Linked DNA regions of Homo sapiens: regions 2, 3 and 4 are each linked to region 1. The links come from fine-mapping of genetic effects on gene expression. A gene starts in region 1. Each other region holds a variant in brackets. All regions are shown on one strand. Distances are between the middles of the regions. Region 1 holds the start of PHLDB3 (pleckstrin homology like domain family B member 3). Region 2 has its middle 4.8 kb from the start of LYPD3. Region 3 has its middle 8.2 kb from the start of LYPD3. Region 4 overlaps PHLDB3 (pleckstrin homology like domain family B member 3).

Evidence for each region. PIP is the estimated chance that this variant, and not a neighbour inherited with it, causes the effect. A credible set is the group of variants that fine-mapping cannot tell apart.
Region 2: its variant is the best candidate, but not a certain one, in a credible set for the expression of PHLDB3 in activated naive CD4 T cells (Schmiedel 2018, PIP 0.61).
Region 3: its variant is the best candidate, but not a certain one, in a credible set for the expression of PHLDB3 in anterior cingulate cortex (GTEx, PIP 0.85).
Region 4: its variant is the best candidate, but not a certain one, in a credible set for the expression of PHLDB3 in testis (GTEx, PIP 0.67).

What each region holds. Positions count from the first base shown.
Region 1 is chr19:43,502,509-43,506,669 of GRCh38, forward strand. It overlaps PHLDB3 (pleckstrin homology like domain family B member 3), which reads right to left and starts at 2,238. Exons shown (of 16, transcript NM_198850.4): 1 at 2,081-2,238; 2 at 1,398-1,624. The coding sequence starts at 1,610. RefSeq lists an enhancer at 1,374-1,896 and silencers at 1,525-1,774, 2,375-2,434.
Region 2 is chr19:43,468,350-43,472,510 of GRCh38, forward strand. No RefSeq gene overlaps it. Among named protein-coding and RNA genes, the nearest start is that of LYPD3, 4.8 kb to the left of the region's middle. The variant C/CTT (reference allele first, on the strand shown) is at 2,346.
Region 3 is chr19:43,455,345-43,459,505 of GRCh38, forward strand. No RefSeq gene overlaps it. Among named protein-coding and RNA genes, the nearest start is that of LYPD3, 8.2 kb to the right of the region's middle. The variant AG/A (reference allele first, on the strand shown) is at 2,123.
Region 4 is chr19:43,475,928-43,480,088 of GRCh38, forward strand. It overlaps PHLDB3 (pleckstrin homology like domain family B member 3), which reads right to left. Exons shown (of 16, transcript NM_198850.4): 14 at 3,450-3,666; 15 at 2,120-2,205. Among named protein-coding and RNA genes, the nearest start is that of LYPD3, 12 kb to the left of the region's middle. The variant A/G (reference allele first, on the strand shown) is at 2,388.

The DNA.
Region 1 (4,161 bases):
CGCGATTACGGCTCACTGCAGCATCGACCTCCCTCGCTCAAGCGATTCTTCTGCCTCATCCTCCTAGGTAGCTGTGACTACAGGCGCGCACCGCCACGCCAAGCTCTTTTTTTTTTTTTTTTTTTTTGGCAGAGAGGGGGCGATGCTATGTTGCCCAGGCTGGTCTCAAACTCCTAGGCTCAAGGGATTCTCCCACCTCGGCCTCCCAAAGTGCTACGATTACAGGCATAAGCCACCGCGCCCGGCCTCAGACCCCTGTATTTAAGGTCGGAGTGGGGGAGGGTGCAAGTCCCGTGACCACCCAACCACACGGACCACAGAGGCTTGCAGTACCGTATGGAGGGTGAGCAGGTGTAAAGCCGACTTATGAAAGGTGTTTCTTTTTCTCTATCAGGTCCTATTCTCTTGGCGTCACTTTCTTGTAGTGCCTGGATCTGTCTCTGTCTCTCCACCTGACCCCAGTCTCTCAGATTCGGTATCTGTCCACTAGATCTGTCCACTAGAATCACTAGATCTTTCTTCCTCGGAGTATGTCCCTCTCTCGAGGTTTTTGTCTATTTGTTTCTCTGAGCATCTCTGCCATTTATTTCTGGGTTTCCCTCTGTCTCGATTCCCCTCTCTCTGACTCTAGTCTCACTGTGTCTCTGTCTTTTTGGGGTCTTTGTCTCTCAGTCTCCATGTCTCTGGGTCTCTGTCTGGCTTCTTGATCTCTCTGCATCTCTTACTCGTTTGGTTCTCTCTGTTCTGTAGTCTCTCCTGTCTGTCTATCTGGTCTCTCTCTCTCTCTCTCTCTCTCTCTCTCTCTCTCATTTTTAGAGATAGGTTCTGCTTTGTCCCAGGCTGGGGTGCAGTGGCGCAGTCATAGTTCACCGCAGCCTACAACTCCTGGGCTCAAGCGATCCTCCTGCCTCAGCCTCCCGAGTAGCTGGGATTACAGGCACGCGGCACTGCGCTTGGACAATTTTTGTATTTTTTTTTTCTCTAGAGACAGGGATTTGCTATGTTGCCCAGACTTGTCTCGAACTCCTGGGCTTAAGCAATCCTCCCCTCGGCCTCCCCAAGTGCTGGGATTACAGGCGTGAGCCACCTATCTGGTTCCTCTATACTAGTCTCTCTGTCTCTGTCGCCCGTTTGGGTCTATCTCCGTTCTTGGGGCCTCCCCGTGGCTCTATCTGGTTTCTGTCTCTGTATCTGGTTTCTGTCTGTCTGTGCCTCTGCCTCTCTGGCTCCGTGTCCTGGTGTATCTCTCTCTCAGTAGTCTCTGCTATCACTCGGTCTCTCTCCCTGTCTCCGGGTCTCTGTCTTTCTGGTTTCCCTCTACCTGTCTACCTGTCTGGCCACCTGTTTGGGTCCCCGTCGGTCCAAGCCCCCCGCGCTGTCGCCCTCGGGCCCCTCACCGCGTCGCGGCTGCTCTCAGTGCTGCTGCCTTCTCCCACTTCTTCTTCCTCTGCCTGCTGCTCAGCTCCCCCGCGGCTCGAAGGTTCCGCCAGGACTTCGGATGCCTCCTGTTCCCGGGACTCCTCGGGATGGCCCTGGGGCTGGACCTCCACGTCGCATTCCGGGACCAGCGGCGGCGGGGTCCCCTCCTCGGGGCTGCTTCGCGTCCCCATGGCCGCTGGGACTCCTGCGGGGTGGGCGGGACCAGAAGCTCCGGGGGCGGGGCCTAGGACGGCTGAGCGCCGCTCGCGTCTGCTCCGGGGCGCGGAGACCCCCCCCCAAGGAGGCGGGGCCTAAGAGTTCAAAGGATGGAACTGAGCGTTACGGAGGCGTGTCCTGAAGTTTCCAGAGGCGGGGCTTGATGGCTCCAAGGCGACACGCCACCGGAGACGGGACCGGAATTTGAGTCCGGGTCGTAGCACGCCCCCTACTGACCTCTTCGACCCCGCCTCCCCTCCCTCATCTCTAGGTGTCAGGCCTTGTACCCTCCCAGCAGCCCCCTACAATCTCTTGGATTCGCTTAGAGCGACCCATCTTCTCCCTCCGAGACTCAGCAGTTCGGCTCCCGCCCCATCCTTCCCGGAGCCCCGTAGTCTTAGTCCCGACCCCACTGTGCAGGGCAACCGTGCCCACGCCGCCTCACCCAGGGATCCAGGAGTCGGGGCTCTCCTTCTCTGAACAAGCCAGGAGTCGGAGTCCTTGAGATTCCGAAGTCCAACTGCCACCTCCCCACAGCCTCGGCCCCCTCACGAGCTCAGGCTTCGGCGCGCTCCGCTCTGCGCGCTGGGCACGGCCGCTTCTGCCTATGAGACAGGTGGCAGGGGAAGAGGGAGGAGAGAGGCCGCCCGGTCCCCCTCCCCAGCAGCCCGGAAGTGGAGGGGGGACAACAGGTCCAACAGCTCCCGAGGGAGGAGGGAGCCACGGGCTTGCCCCACCCGTGGCCTCGGCATCCGGCCATCCCGGCCCCACCGGCCCCGGCCCGGCCCCACCCTCGTGGAACTCAGCATCGCGACCTCCCAGTCTCCCTCGAGCCCCTCATTCCTGCCCCCCTGGAGGAGTCTTGGCCACCTCTGTATGGGAGCCTCTCTAATGTCCAGACCTTGGGAGTTCAGAAAGGAAGGCAGGAATGGAGATGGGGACGTCTCCCCTCTAATGAGCCCTTCAGAAGGGCCCTGACCGGTTTGGGGAGCTGGACAAGGGGAAGGGGTGCCCTGAACTGAGTCAGACACCTGCCCAGAGACTGAGGGAAGTGTACCGCCACCCCCCCACAACTTTGCTATGGGGTGGAGGGCAGAGGTTAAAGGTCTCAGCCAGACCCTTTCCTCTCTGGGCGAAAACAGGAAAATGAAAACAGGAAAATAACTGGTATATGAAAAGGGATGATTAGAAGTCAAGAGCTGTGTGAAACACTTTATACCCAGTCATTTAATTTCACCCTCAAAGCTGTCCAGCGAGAAAGTGATTACTACCTCCATTTCTTTTTTTTTAGTAGAGACTGGGTTTCTCCAGGTTGCCCAGGCTGATCTTGAACTCCTGGGCTCAAACAACCTGCCTGCCTCAGCCTCCCAAAGTGTTGAGATTACAGGCGTGAGCCACCGCTCCTGGCCTACTATCTCCATTTTACACTTGGGGATACAAGCTGAGGAGGACAAATGCACCCAAGGTTGGCTGGGCACAGAGGCTCAGGCCTGTAATCCCAGCACTTTGGGAAGCCGAGGCAGGTGGATTGCTTGAGATCAGGAGTTCAAGGCCAGCCTGGGCAACATGGAGAAACCCCATCTCTACTAAAAATACAAAAATTATGCCAGGCGTGGTGGCACACACCTGTCATCTCAGCTACTCCAGAGGCTGAGGCAGGAGGATATCTCGAGCCCAGGAGGTCGAGGCTGCAGTGAGTCTTGAATGTGCCACTGCACTCCAGCCTGGGCGACAGAGTAAGACCCCATCTCAGAAAAAAAAAAAAAAATGTAGCCAACATCTACACATGTTGTAAGTGGTAAAATGCAGGCTTCATTCTCTCAAAAGTCCATGTTCTTAACCATTGCGTATACTGTCACTACAAGCCAGGAAGTACCCAAAAGATCATTCTAAATGATAGTAACTTTAATGGTGAACACTGATAGGCCATGTGCCAGGCACTCACACACATTGACTCATCAGAGCATCACAACACCCCATTATTATTCCTTCCATTTTAGAGATAAGAAAACTGAGGCCTAGAGAAGTGAAGTAACTTACCCCAGGGCTAAGTGGGAAGTGGCTCAAAAGCAAGCCGGTGTTCTAATCCAAGGTGATGAGAAGACCTGCCCCAGATAGCTGTGTTTGTTTTTGATCTTGTGAGTTAGAAATCTTGTGGGCTCCCGGGCTGGGCGCGGTGGCTCACACCTGTAATCCCAGCACTTTGGGAGGCCGAGGCTGGTGGATCACGAGGTCAGGAGATCAAGATCATATTGGCTAACATGGTCAAACCCTGTCTCTACTAAAAATATGAAAAAATTAGCCGGGCATGGTGGCACGCGCCTGTAGTCCCAGCTACTTGGGAAGCTGATGCAGGAGAATCGCTTGAACCCGGGAGGCAGAGGTTGCAGTGAGCCGAGATCGTGCCACTGCACTCCAGCCTGGGCAATGGAGGGAGACTCCATCTCAAAAAAAAAAAGAAAAGAAAAAGAAAACAAATCTTGCAGGCTCCCTGGCCTCTCCATAGGACCAGAACCCCACCCCTTT
Region 2 (4,161 bases), 34 kb before region 1:
GGTGGCACACACCTGTAATCCCAGTTCCTGGGGAGTAGGGGCTGAGGCAGGAGAATCGCTGAACCTAGGAGGCAGAGGTTGCAGTGAGCCGAGATTTGCGCCACTGCCCTCCAACCTGGGTGACAGAGCAAGACTTTGACTCAAAAAAAAAAAAAATCAATCCTTTCTAACACCCTTTTACTTAGACACCTCACAGTTACCTCATGGTGTGTTTTCTCCCTCATTGCAAGAAGCAATAAACCCAACTTGTTCAACCACAGGTGTGTCCCTGGTGGAGAACATTGACACAGGCCAGAGCAGATGTACTTAGCCAAGGGTGTCCCAAAGGAAAGGTGAAGAGTGGAAAGATCTAAAATATTTTAGGAGGAAGAACAGGTAGGGATTACTGATGGATCCAATGTGAGGGAAGAGGAAGTGGGAGGTTTCCAAGCTAATTCCAGACAGTTCTTGCCATAAACCACATCATGACATTAATAACAATGGTAACAAAAGTCATAATAACAACAGTGACTGAGTATCAAGTGTTTGTTTCCCAGAAACTGTTTTGAACAGGGGGCATGCATTATCTCATTTAATCCTCACCTGTAAGTATGGTTATTAGCATTTATTAACCACTTACTCTGTGCTTAGCACTTTCTGTGAATCCTCTCTGAATGTCACGACAGCTCTGCAAAGAGAGAACTAAGTCTCATTTCACAGATGGGAAAACTGAGACTGGGAGAGGCTTGGAAGTGGCAGAACTGGGATTTGAATCCAGGGCTGTCTCCAAAGGCCCCCATGCCATTTGCCAAAGTCAGAGCCTGGCTTTAGGCCTGAGATTATATTTTGCAATGACCCTTAGTTTTACAGCCAGACAGGCATGCATTTGAATACCAACTCTGCCCCTAATCTGCTGTGTGACTTGATCAAGTGACTCCAATTCTTTGATGTTCAGAGGCTTCCTGTCTAAACAAAGACTATGACAAAAGCACATGCATTCAGTGCTTCCTCTGTGCCAGGCAACTTTCCACACCCTTTACACACAATCCTATGAGAGATTTCTATGATGGTCAATTTACAAATGGGGAAATCGAGGCAGGCATGGGGGGCTTAACAACTTGCTCAGGGTCACAAAGCTAGGAAGTCACAATGCTAGGAGACAGTATTTGAACTCAGGCAGTCTGGCTTAACTAACAGTACCTATAATTAGGTACATGGGTCCATTGGATATCAGCTGTGAAACTTTGACAATTACTTGGCCCCTGTGTGCCTCAGTGCCCTCATCCTCATCCATAAAATGAGGGTCTTAGTAGTACCCACATCATACTAGGTGCTATACTGCTAGGGCATCAATGTTATATATATGTGAAATACTATACTGCTAGGGCATCAATGTTAAATATATGTGAAATGATTAAAATAGGGTCAAATTCTAGGAGTTATGAAAGCATTAGTTTTTATTACTAATAATAGGTTAAGGGCCAAGCACAGTGGCTGGTGCCTGTAATCCCAGCATTTTGTGGGGGCTGAGGCGGGCAGATCACTTGAGCCCAGGAGTTTGAGACCAGCCTGGGCAACATAGTGAAACCCTATCTCTACAAAAAATACAAAAAGTAGCCAGGTGTGGTGGTGCACACCTGTAGATCCAACTACTCGGGAGGCCGAGGTGGAAGGATCGCATTGAGCCTGGGAGGTCAAGGCTGCAGTAAGTTGTGATCACGTCACTGTACTCCAGCCTGAGTCACAGAGTGAGACCCTGTCTCAATAATAATAATAATAAATAGATTGTTAGTATAACTATTATTATTAACAGCCCTCACTTCTTGAGCTCCAACCGTGTGCCACACAGGGTGGTCAGCTCTTATACAAGCAATCTTGCCTTGAATTCCTAACGAGGGGGTAGAGAGGAAGATCTCCTTCACAGAGGAAGACTCTGAGACCCAGAGAGAGGAAGGTATCTGTTCAAGTTCACACAGCAAGGGAAGCGGCAGAGTCAGATGTCAGACCCGGCTGCAGGGGGCTGGCTCACTGTCTGATGACGAGACAAGCAGCGGTCGTGTTTATAAAGATATTATCTGTTCTCCAGACCCTGTGAGGCACCCCCGTTCCCAACAATGACGAGCACTTCAGTCACCTGGGTGAGGTCACTTGGCATCATGCTGAAGCTGAGAGAGAGAAAGTGAATGACTTCTTGTGAAGTCATTCATTCAGCACTGTCCCCTTCCCCCTCCCTCCGCCCGCCTCCCAGCCTTGGAATCTCAGCCCTGATTCTTGCTTTGCTGTGTGATGCTGCATAAATGCTTTCATCTCTCTGAGCCTCCAAGGTGTCTTTTTTTTTTTTTTTTTTTTTGAGACGGAGTTTCACT[C/CTT]GTTTCCCAGGCTGGAGTGCAAATGGCGCAATCTCAGCTCACTGCAACCTCTGTCTCCCAGGTTCAAGCGATTCTTCTACCTCAGCCTCCCGAGTAGCTGGGATTACAGGCATCCACCACCACACTCAGCAAATTTTTTGTATTTTTAGTAGAGATGGAGTTTCGCCATGTTGGTCAGGCTGGTCTCAAACTCCCAACCTCAGGTGATCTGCCTGCCTCGGCCTCTCAAAGTGCTGGGATTACAGGCGTGAGCCACCATGCCGGGCCCAAAGTGTCTTTTTTATAATAAAAGAAGGACTATCTTTCATTGGTAGGGTAAGGCAGTGGGCAAAATATCAAGTCTGGAAGTGGACAGACACATTTTAATCCTATCTCTGCCACCCTCTTGCTGTGTAACCTCAAGCAACTCCATCTCCCTCTCTGAACTTCCCCTGAAAACCCCTACCTCCTGAAGGATAGAGCGGGGACCCAGTGAGTGACAGGCAGGGTGAGACTAGCATTATTATTGTGTGCTGCTCTGAAGCAGGAGGCCCTGCAGGTCCCAGCTGTGTGGGAGAGTTTCAGGGAGGAACCCCAACTGGCCAGACCAGAAGAACTAGCATCTCGGGAGGGAGTGGGACCCAGGGTGGAGAGGTACCTCTTGCTCAGGCCTGCCCAGATTCTAGGCGCTGACCCCCGCCTGGCCCATGACCAGAGAACAGAAGGAGGTTTGAATGCAGGGCACCACTTAAGCCTGCTGCGTGGTAGGTGGCTGGCTCTTCTGGGTCCTTTGCAGATTTTATGGCAGAGAATCTAGAATCTGGCTCAGGGGTCAGTGCGGAGGCAGCTGCCAGCAATACAGATCACTCCCAGGCCTCAGACAAGCCCAGGACCATATTCACTCTGGATTTCTCGTCTCCCTGTGGCAGACCAGGCTCTGACGCCAGTGAGGTTCCCAGCCTGACTCAGGCCCACTCCCTCTGGGACACACTGTTTGTGACAAGTTAGGGAAGGAGTGGAGTCAGGGATGGGGCTGACTGTATAATTTTCGGGCCCCAGTGCAAAATGAAATTTAGAGACCTGGTTCAAAACGCAGGAAAAGAGGCCGGGCACGGTGGCTCACGCCTGTAATCCCAGCACTTTGGGAGGCCGAGGTGGGAGGATCACCAGAAATTAGGAGTTCGAGACCAGACTGACCAACATGGTGAAACCCCATTTCTACTAAAAATACAAAAAATTAGCCAGGTGTGGTGGCGTGTGCCTGTAATCCTAGCTACTCCAGAGGCTGAGACAGGAGAATCGCTTGAACCCAGGAGGCGGAGGGTGCAGTGAGCTGAGATCGCACCATTGCACTCCAGCCTGGGCAACAAGAGCAAAACTCCATTCTCACCAAAAAAAAAAAAAAAAAAAAAAAAAAACAGGAAAGAGTGCTGTTAAAGGTACTAAAATAGAAACACTTTTTTTTCCTTTCTTCTGCCTCAATCTTTTTTTTTTTTTTTTTTTTGAGACAGTCTCACTCTGCCACCCAGGCTGGCATGCAGCTCACAGCTCACTGCAGCCTCTCTATCTCCCGGACTCAAGCAATCCTCCCACCTCAGCCTCCCAAGTAGCTGCCACTACAGGTGTGTGCCACCATGTCCAGCTAATTTTTAAATTTTTTTTTGTAGAAAAAGGGTCTTGTTATGTTGCCCAGGCTGGTCTCAAACTCCTGGGCTCAAGTGATCTTCCTGTCTCAGCCTCCCAAAATGCTAGGATTACGGGCATGAGGCACTGCACCTGGCCCTCAGCCTTTCTCTTGACCCCTCATGGTGTTTAATGTTATGTTCCCTTGGGCACA
Region 3 (4,161 bases), 47 kb before region 1:
CTGGGATTACAAGCGTGAACCACTGCACCTAGCTCATTTTATTTTTATAATGCCCATAAAGCATCAAACTGTGTGAGCACACCATCATAAGCATAACCAGTTCCCTCCTGATAAACATTTAGGTTATTCCTAATGTTTTGTTATTCCAAACACTACTGCAATTAACATCCTGGAGCAGACCTGACATCAGCCTCAGGCGTCCATGTCTACATGTGAGATAAATTCCTGAGAGAAAAACCTGCCAAGTCAGAAGCGATCTGCATTTGTCATTTAGAAAGACGTTTCCAAATTGCACCCCAATTTCCCTCCCCTGCAACTGATTGACCAACCATTTCTCAAAAGGGCTTTTTGAGCACTCTCTCTCTCTCTCTCTCTTGCTGTCTCTGTATTTTTTTAATGTTTGACAGCAAGAAGATAGTCATGTCTTGCTTATGTAATTAAAATTAAACAAGCCCTTCGTTAAAAACACACAAACCCAGGAAGAAGAGAAACCAGCAAGGCCAGTTCAGGCAGATCCACCCTGCCCCTTGTCACACCTGCCTTGTCCCCAGCAAGCCCTGAAAAAGAGGCTGAAATCAATTTCTCACACATGGACCTCAGACATCAAACCTTGGAAAAAATACAGGAAAGAGATTTTGTAACTTTCCCCCTCTGTGGCTTTTCGTACGGCTAAACCCTCTCACTCTCTCTTCCCTTTCTTTCTCCTCGTCCTTTTTCTTCTTTCTCTCACTTCTGTTTTGGTGAGCTGTCATTAAAAACACTTTAAAGCCGTGTCCAGTCTAATAAGTTATACAGAATCTGGCTGTGTGTGTGTGTGTGTGTGTGTGTGTGTGTGTGTGTGTCTGTGTGTGAGAGAGAGAGAAAGAGAGAGAGACAGAGTCTCACTCTGTCGCCCAGGCTGGAGTGCAGTGGTACAATCACAGCTCACTGCAGCCTCCGCCTTCCGGGTTCAAGTGATTCTCCTGCCTCAGCCTCCCAAGTAGCTGGGATTGTAGGCGCGCACCACCAAGCCTGGCTGATTTTTTTTTTTTTTTTTTGAGACAGAGTCTCACTCTGTCACCCAAGTTGGAGTGCAATGGCACAATCTTGGCTCACTGCAAGCTCCGCCTCCCAGGTTCAAACGATTCTTCTGCCTCAGCCTCCTGAGTAGCTGGGACTACAGGAGTCCGCCACCACGTCCAGCTAATTTTTGTATTTTTAGTAGAGACAGGGTTTTACCATATTGGCCAGACTGGTCTTGAACTCCTGACCTAAGGTGATCCGCCCGCCTCGACCTCCCAAAGTGCTGGGATTACAGGCGTGAGCCACCATGCCCAGCCGATTTTGTTGCATTTTTAGTAGAGATGGGGTTTCGCCATATTGGCCAGACTGGTCTCGAACTCCTCACCTAAGGTGATCCGCCCGCCTCGACTTCCCAAAGTGCTGTGATTACAGGCGTGAGCCACCATGCCCAGCCGATTTTGTTGCATTTTTAGTAGAGATGGGGTTTCGCCATATTGGCCAGACTGGTCTCAAACTCCTGACTTCAAGAGATCCACCCGCCTCGGCCTCACAAAATGTTGCGATTATGGGTATGAGCCACCACACCTGGCCAGAATCTGGTATTTTTAACAGAAAGCAGAGCTAGGAGCTTAAAAGTAGAAACTAGATGAGCAAAACAATTGATTATATTTGAAACACATTAAGCTCTTCTTTTCTCTTCTCCTCCTGAACACAAGCAAGTAACTGTCTGGAAGGAGGTTGGAGGGGTTGCGGTGGGGGAGCGGGAGTCTCAGGGCCCATAATGGGTTTCAGAGGCCAAGATGGATAAGGAGGTCATCCTCCCAAGAAGATGGGAAGGCTGGACAGTGACAGCTGCAAAAGATTGGTTACTTTCAGGGGGATGGATCCGCTAAGTAAATATATTGCCAGCCTGGCCAACATAGCGAATTCCCATCTCTACTAAAAATACAAAAATTAGCCGGGCGTGGTGGTGTGCACCTGTAGTCCCAGCTACTCGAGAGGCTGAGGCAGGAGAATTGCTTGAACCTGGGAGGCAGAAGTTGCAGTGAGCCAAGATCACGCCACTGCACTCCAGCCTGGGCAACAGAGTGAGACTCCATCTCAAACAACAACAAAAAAA[AG/A]CATTGGAAGCCAGATTTCTTTTTTTTGAGACAGTGTCTTGCTTTGTCACCCAGGCTGGAGTGCAGTGGCACCATCATGGTTCACTGCAACCTCGGCCTCCAGGGTTCAAGCGATCCTCCCACCTCAGCATCCCCAAGTAGCTGGGACTACAGGCACGTGCCACCACACCTGGCTAATTTTTAATGTATTTTTCTTAGAGACGAGGTTGCCCAGGATGGTCTTAAATTCCTGGACTCAAGGGATCCGCCTGCCTCAGCCTCCCAAAATGCTGGGATTACAAGCATGAGCCACCACGCCCAGCTGAGTGGTAGGGATTTTGAGCTGGGGTGAATGGCGATTGTAGGTCATTTGCATTTTTAATCGGCTTTACCCAGAAGAGAAGGCAACTTTCTTCTGTCTTCATGACAGGAGGTATTTTACAACTGAGAGCTGAGTCATGTACCAAAGTTAGGCTCTCACCTTCCTGGGGGGAGATAGGAGTGCTATTTCCTTTTATGTTTACAATTTCAAAAAGATAGTTTCCTGGGTCCTGGTCACTCATCCCTGTAATCCCAGCATTTTGAGAAGCCAAGGCAGGAAGATAGCTTGACCCCAGTTCAAGATCAGCCTGGGCAACATAGTGAGACTCCATTTCCTGGGCTATCAACTGGCAAGATACTTTTTTTTTCTTTTTTTTTTTGTGACAGAGTGTCATTTTGTCGCCCCCAGGCTGAAGTGCAATGGCGTGATCTTGGCTCGCTGCAACCTCCGCCTCCCAGGTTGAAGCGATTCTCATGCCTCAGCCTCCTGAGTAGCTGGGATTACAGGCACTTGCCACCACACCTGGCTAATTTCTGTATTTTTAGTAGAGACGGGGTTTCAACATGTTGGTCAGGCTGGTCTTGAACTCCTGACCTCGTGATCCACCCGCCTTGGCCTCCCAAAGTACTGGGATTACGGGCGTGAGCCACCGCGCCCGGCCAAGACTTTTAAAGAGGTTTATATCCATCTCAAATGGACAAAGAAATAATTTACAATGACAAGTTTTCTCAAGTAAATGCTCTAAGAAAAGGGAGGTAAGGGGCCTCTGTGGTTAGACCCTCTGGATTCTGAGGGCCTAGAGGCAGGAGGAAGCCTGTCTAAAGTTTAGTCAAGCTGAGGGAAACATTATGGCAGTGTTGGTACACTCTGTAAAGCTGACCTGCCCGTGTTCAAATCCGAGCTCCACTGCTTAATAGCTGAGTGACGTGGGGCAAGTTTCTTAACCTCTCTAGCCCTGATTTCCCCATCTTGTAAAATGCAGGTGATTAACACTTACTTCATAGGATGGTTTTGTAGATTAAATATATTAATCCAAGTACAGCACTTAATACAGTACCTGGCACATAATCAATGTATTATTTGCTGTGGGTAATTACTTCATCATTCTGAGCCTCAGTTTCCCCAATCATCCCATCTGAAAATATGTGGAAAAGTCAATGAGATGATGGCTGTAAACTGATAGCATAGACTTGGCATCTAGTAAGACTGTCTTTAATCACTAACACAGCTGGGCACGGTGCCTCACATCTGTAATCCCAGCACTTGAGAGACAGAGGCAGGAGGATCATCTGAGCCCAGGAGTTCGAGACCAGCCTGGGTAACATAGTGAGACGCCAATCTCTACAATACAAATAAAAGTTAAATTAAAATTTAAAAATCTCTGCCGGGCATGGTGACTCACGCCTGTAATCCCAGCACTTTGGGAGGCCAAGGTGGGTGGATCACCTGAGGTCAGGAGTTTGAGACCAGCCTGACCAACATGGAGAAACCCCATCTCTACTAAAAATATAAAATTAGCCAAGCATGGTGGCACATGCCTGTAATCCCAGCTACTCGGGAGGCTGAGGCAGGAGAATCGCTTGAACCTGGGAGGGGAGGTTGTGGCGAGCTGAGATTGTGCCATTGCACTCCAGCCTGGGTAACAAGAGCAAAACTCCATTTCAAAAAAAAAAAAAAAGAAAAATCATTAATACTCCCAACACTACATTTACCATCACTGATGTTTCCCTCTATACA
Region 4 (4,161 bases), 27 kb before region 1:
TGGGACTACAGGCGTGTGCCACCACGCCCAGCTAATTTTTGTATTTTTAGTACAGACCAGGGTTTCACAGTGTTTGTCAGGATGGTCTCGATCTCTTGACCTCGTGATCCGCCTGCTTCGGCCTCCCAGAGTGCTGGGCTTACAGGCGTGAGCCACTGTGCCAGGCCGAGAAATTTAAAAGTAGGACTTATGACGCCTTCTCTCAGCCTAACTTCTCCTATATTAGAAATACAGGCATTCAAATTCCACCTCCCCAAAATCTAGGTCCCCTTGTACCTGGGAAAAGTTAGTGTCTAGAATCCGTTATTTGAGTACCCACTTGCCAATCCCAAATTGAGTAAATCCCTTATGTCCATAATCTGTTTTTAGCCCTCTCAATAACCCTGATGGAATGGGTTGATGCGTACCCATTCTACACGTGAGAAAACTCAGGCCGGCCGGGCTGGGTGGCTCACGCCTGCAATCCCAGCACTTTGGGAGGTTGAAGCGGATTGATTGCTTGAACTCAGGAGTTCAAGACCAGCCTGGGCAACAGAGGGAGACCCCATCTCTACAAAAAAATACCAGAAAAACAAAACAAAACAAATTAGCTGGGTGTGGTGGCACACACATATAGTCCTAGCTACTCAGGAGGCTGAGGCAGGAGGATTGCTTGAGCCCGAGAGATAGAGGCTGCAGTGAGCTATGATTGTACCACTGCACTCCAGCCTGGTCTATGGAGCAAGAAAAAAAAAAAGAAAAAGAAACAAAGAAAACTAAGGCTAAAGGCTAAAGAAAGGAAGTCACTTTCCTGATGTCACATAGCTGAGATTCCAACCTAATTGCTAAAAAGCCACAGTTTGGTTATTCTCCACAGAGCTTTCTAAATATTGTATCAGTTGCCAACATTTAAATTTTTGGCACTGTGCTTTATACAAGTTCCAATTCCTGAGTTCTCTGGGAAAAAATAAATATAAGACAACACCATGGGACCCACTCCCACTTGGCAACTGTTGGCAGGAGCCAACTAACAACCATCTCCTTTATTTATTTTTCATTTAAAAAATAAAAAAAAAAAAACAGAGATGGGATCTTGCTATGTTGACCATGCTGGTCTCAAACTCCTGGCCTCCTGCAGTCCTCCCATCTTGGTCTCCCAAAATGTTGGGATTATAGGCATGAGCCACGACGCCTGGCAGATCATCTCCTTTAGATGCTCCCAGGCTGCCCGACCCTTGCTGTGACCTCTCCATTCATTTATTCCCAGTTGGACATCAGAGTCTGCCATATTTTGGCTCTAAAACTTTTGCTCCAAGAAAATTAACAGTGACAGGCCAGGTGCGGTGGCTCACGCCTGTAATCCGAGCACTTTGGGGGGCCAAGGTGGGCAGATCATGAGGTCAGGAGTTCGAGACCAGCCTGGCCAACACAGTGACACCCCATCTCAACTAAAAATACAAAAGTTAGCCAGCTGTGGTGGCACGCCTGTAATCCCAACTACTTGGGAGGCTGAGGCAGGAGAATCGCTTGAACCCGGGAGGCAGAGGTTGCAGTGAGCCAAGATGGCGCCACCGCACTCCAGCCTGGGCAACAGAGCCAGACTCCATCTAAAAAAAAAAAAAGAGCCACGTGTGGTGCGGTGGTTCACGCCTGTAATCCCAGAACTTTGAGAGGCTGAGGTGGGCAGATCATGAGGTCAGGAGTTTGAGACCAACCTGGCCAACACAGTGAAACCCCGTCTCTACTAAAAATACAAAAATTAGCCGGGCACGGTGCCTGTAATCCCAGCTACTCAGGAGGCTGAGGCAGGAGAATTGCTTGAACCAGGGAGGCGGAGGTTGCAGTGAGCCGAGATGGCGCCACTGTACTCAGGCCTGGGCGACAGAATGAGACTCTGTCTTAAAAAAAAAAAAAAAGAAGAAAATTAACAGTGGCTGAAGGCCAGAGTCTGGGCTCTTAATTTTTAGTCCCTGCAGTCAGGTGACCTGTTTGTTTTCTCTGCGACAAACACGTACTCCTATGAGTACCCTGACAGGAGAAGCTGCGGGTGGCTTTCCCCAGGATGAGCCAGGGATGAGATAAGGCCTGACTCCAACTGAGTCTCCAACTGGGAGGTCAGGGTGACATTGAGGGGCTTCACCTTGAAGGCACAGCGTAAGTGGTCATAATAGACTTCCTCAATGGCCTGGAAGTAGATGACACCTTTGAGCTTGGTCTCTTCCTTGTCTGGTAGGGGAGGTAAGAGAAAAAGAGAGCCAGTGAGAAAGGTGTGTCTGTGTGTGTCGAGGTGAGGGTCATTGGCCCTAAGTCCTGAGACTGGATTTGGGTAAGAAACATGGTGACAAGAGTCTGAAGGTCTCTAAAGGTTGGGAGGTGAGTGAATGTTAACGCTGGATGGGAGACTGGGC[A/G]CAGAAACTGGACATGATTGGGGAGTGGGGTCTGTGGAGCTGGAATCCTAGGCCCTGAATGCTCGGCCTCTGAGAAGGGAAGGAACTCAGGGAGTGCTCAAGTGCTTTCTAGGTATAATCTCTAACCCTCTCAAACTCTCCTGGAGGGGTAAGTACATTTATCTCCATCTGACAGATGTGGAAACCAAGACTCAGAGAAGTTAAGGCACCCAGCACAAGTCACACAGCCAGAGCTGACAGAGCCAGGACTCACCAAGTAGAGTCAAATGGTCATACAGGTTAGGGAAGAAGGATTTGAGACAATACAAGCGTCCAAGGAGGCTGGGTGCAGTGGCTCAAGCCTGTAATCCCAGCACTTTAGGAGGCTGAGGCAGGCAGATCACAAGGTCAGGAGATCGAGACCATCCTGGCTAACACAGTGAAACCCTGTCTCTACTAAAAATACAAAAAATTAGCCAGGTGTGGTGGCATGAGCCTGTAGTCCCGCCTATTCAGGAGGCTGAGGCAGGAGAATCGCTTGAGCCGGGGAGGTGGAGGTTGCAGTGGGCTGAGATCGCACCACTGCACTCCAGCCTGGGCGACAGAGCAAGACTCTGTCTCCAAAAAACAAAAACAAAAACAAAAACAAAAAAAAGTGTCCAAGGAGAGGTTTGGAATAATTGATTCTCCTAGAGAAGAAGGACAAGGGCCCCAGACTCCTGGCCATTGGGGGGCTGGGGGCAGCTGACAGTGCAGGTTCAGACTCATGGGTGTCTTAGGAACATGGGCCCTGGGAAGCTTGAATTGTACTAAACTGTTATCTATGTCCCTGAGGAGGACTGGGGGTTTGAATTCTGGGTGGCTTAAAGAGGGGCTGGGGATCTGGATTCCAGGGTCTGGAGGAGAGAGAGAGCTGGGAGCCTGGACTCCTGGGTTGTAGGGAAGTTAGGAGCTAGGGAACCAAACTTCTGGATCCTGGGGAACATGGAAAGTGGGGGCCAGGACTTCTGGTGCCTGTAGAGGAAAGGCCTCCGGAGTGGAATTCCAGCGTCCTGGGGCCCATGGTGGCCAGGCTGGGCTTACCCGCATAGTAGGCCAAGCGGCGGGCTTGGCGGTCAAAGCAGAACCATCGCTTCCTCCAGGTCTTGATGCGGCCGCCCATCTTCACCAGGGGTCCACGGCAGCAGCACCCAGACACCTGCACATGTGGGCAGTTTTCCGGGTTGTGGCCCCATCCCTCCAGATGCTGCCGGAGATCCAAGATTCGCGGGCCTGGAGGGTGGGGTGGGGTGGGTGGGGCCTGGGGAGCAAAGAGACGGGGCAGCTGATGTAAGGGGCGGGGGATTCTACAGCCTGGAGCCCCTCGAGGGGAGCAAGTCATAGCAGCTTGCATGTAAGGCCCGCTACAGCCTTTAGAGGGTAATATTAACTAGGACCATCTGACAAATGCAACGGCTACGTGGATTGACTGTGATGCTCTGCCCAGGACTTTATGGACATCAGCTCCTTGGCACTTCATGGCAACTGTGAGCCCCATTTTACAAATGAGCAAAATGAGGTACAGAGAGATGACATAATGCACCCGAGGTCACACAGAGCTTCTAGGCAGCAGAACTGGGACACGAACCCAGGTATTTCTGACCCTAGAGCTCACCCTGAAACATCAGAGGCCTATCAAAAGAAATAAAGATCGGGCCGGGTGTGGTGGCTTATGCCTGTAATCTCAGAACTTTGGGAGGCTGAGGTAGGAGGATCCCTTAGGCCTAAGAATTCAAGGGCAGCCTGGGCAACATAG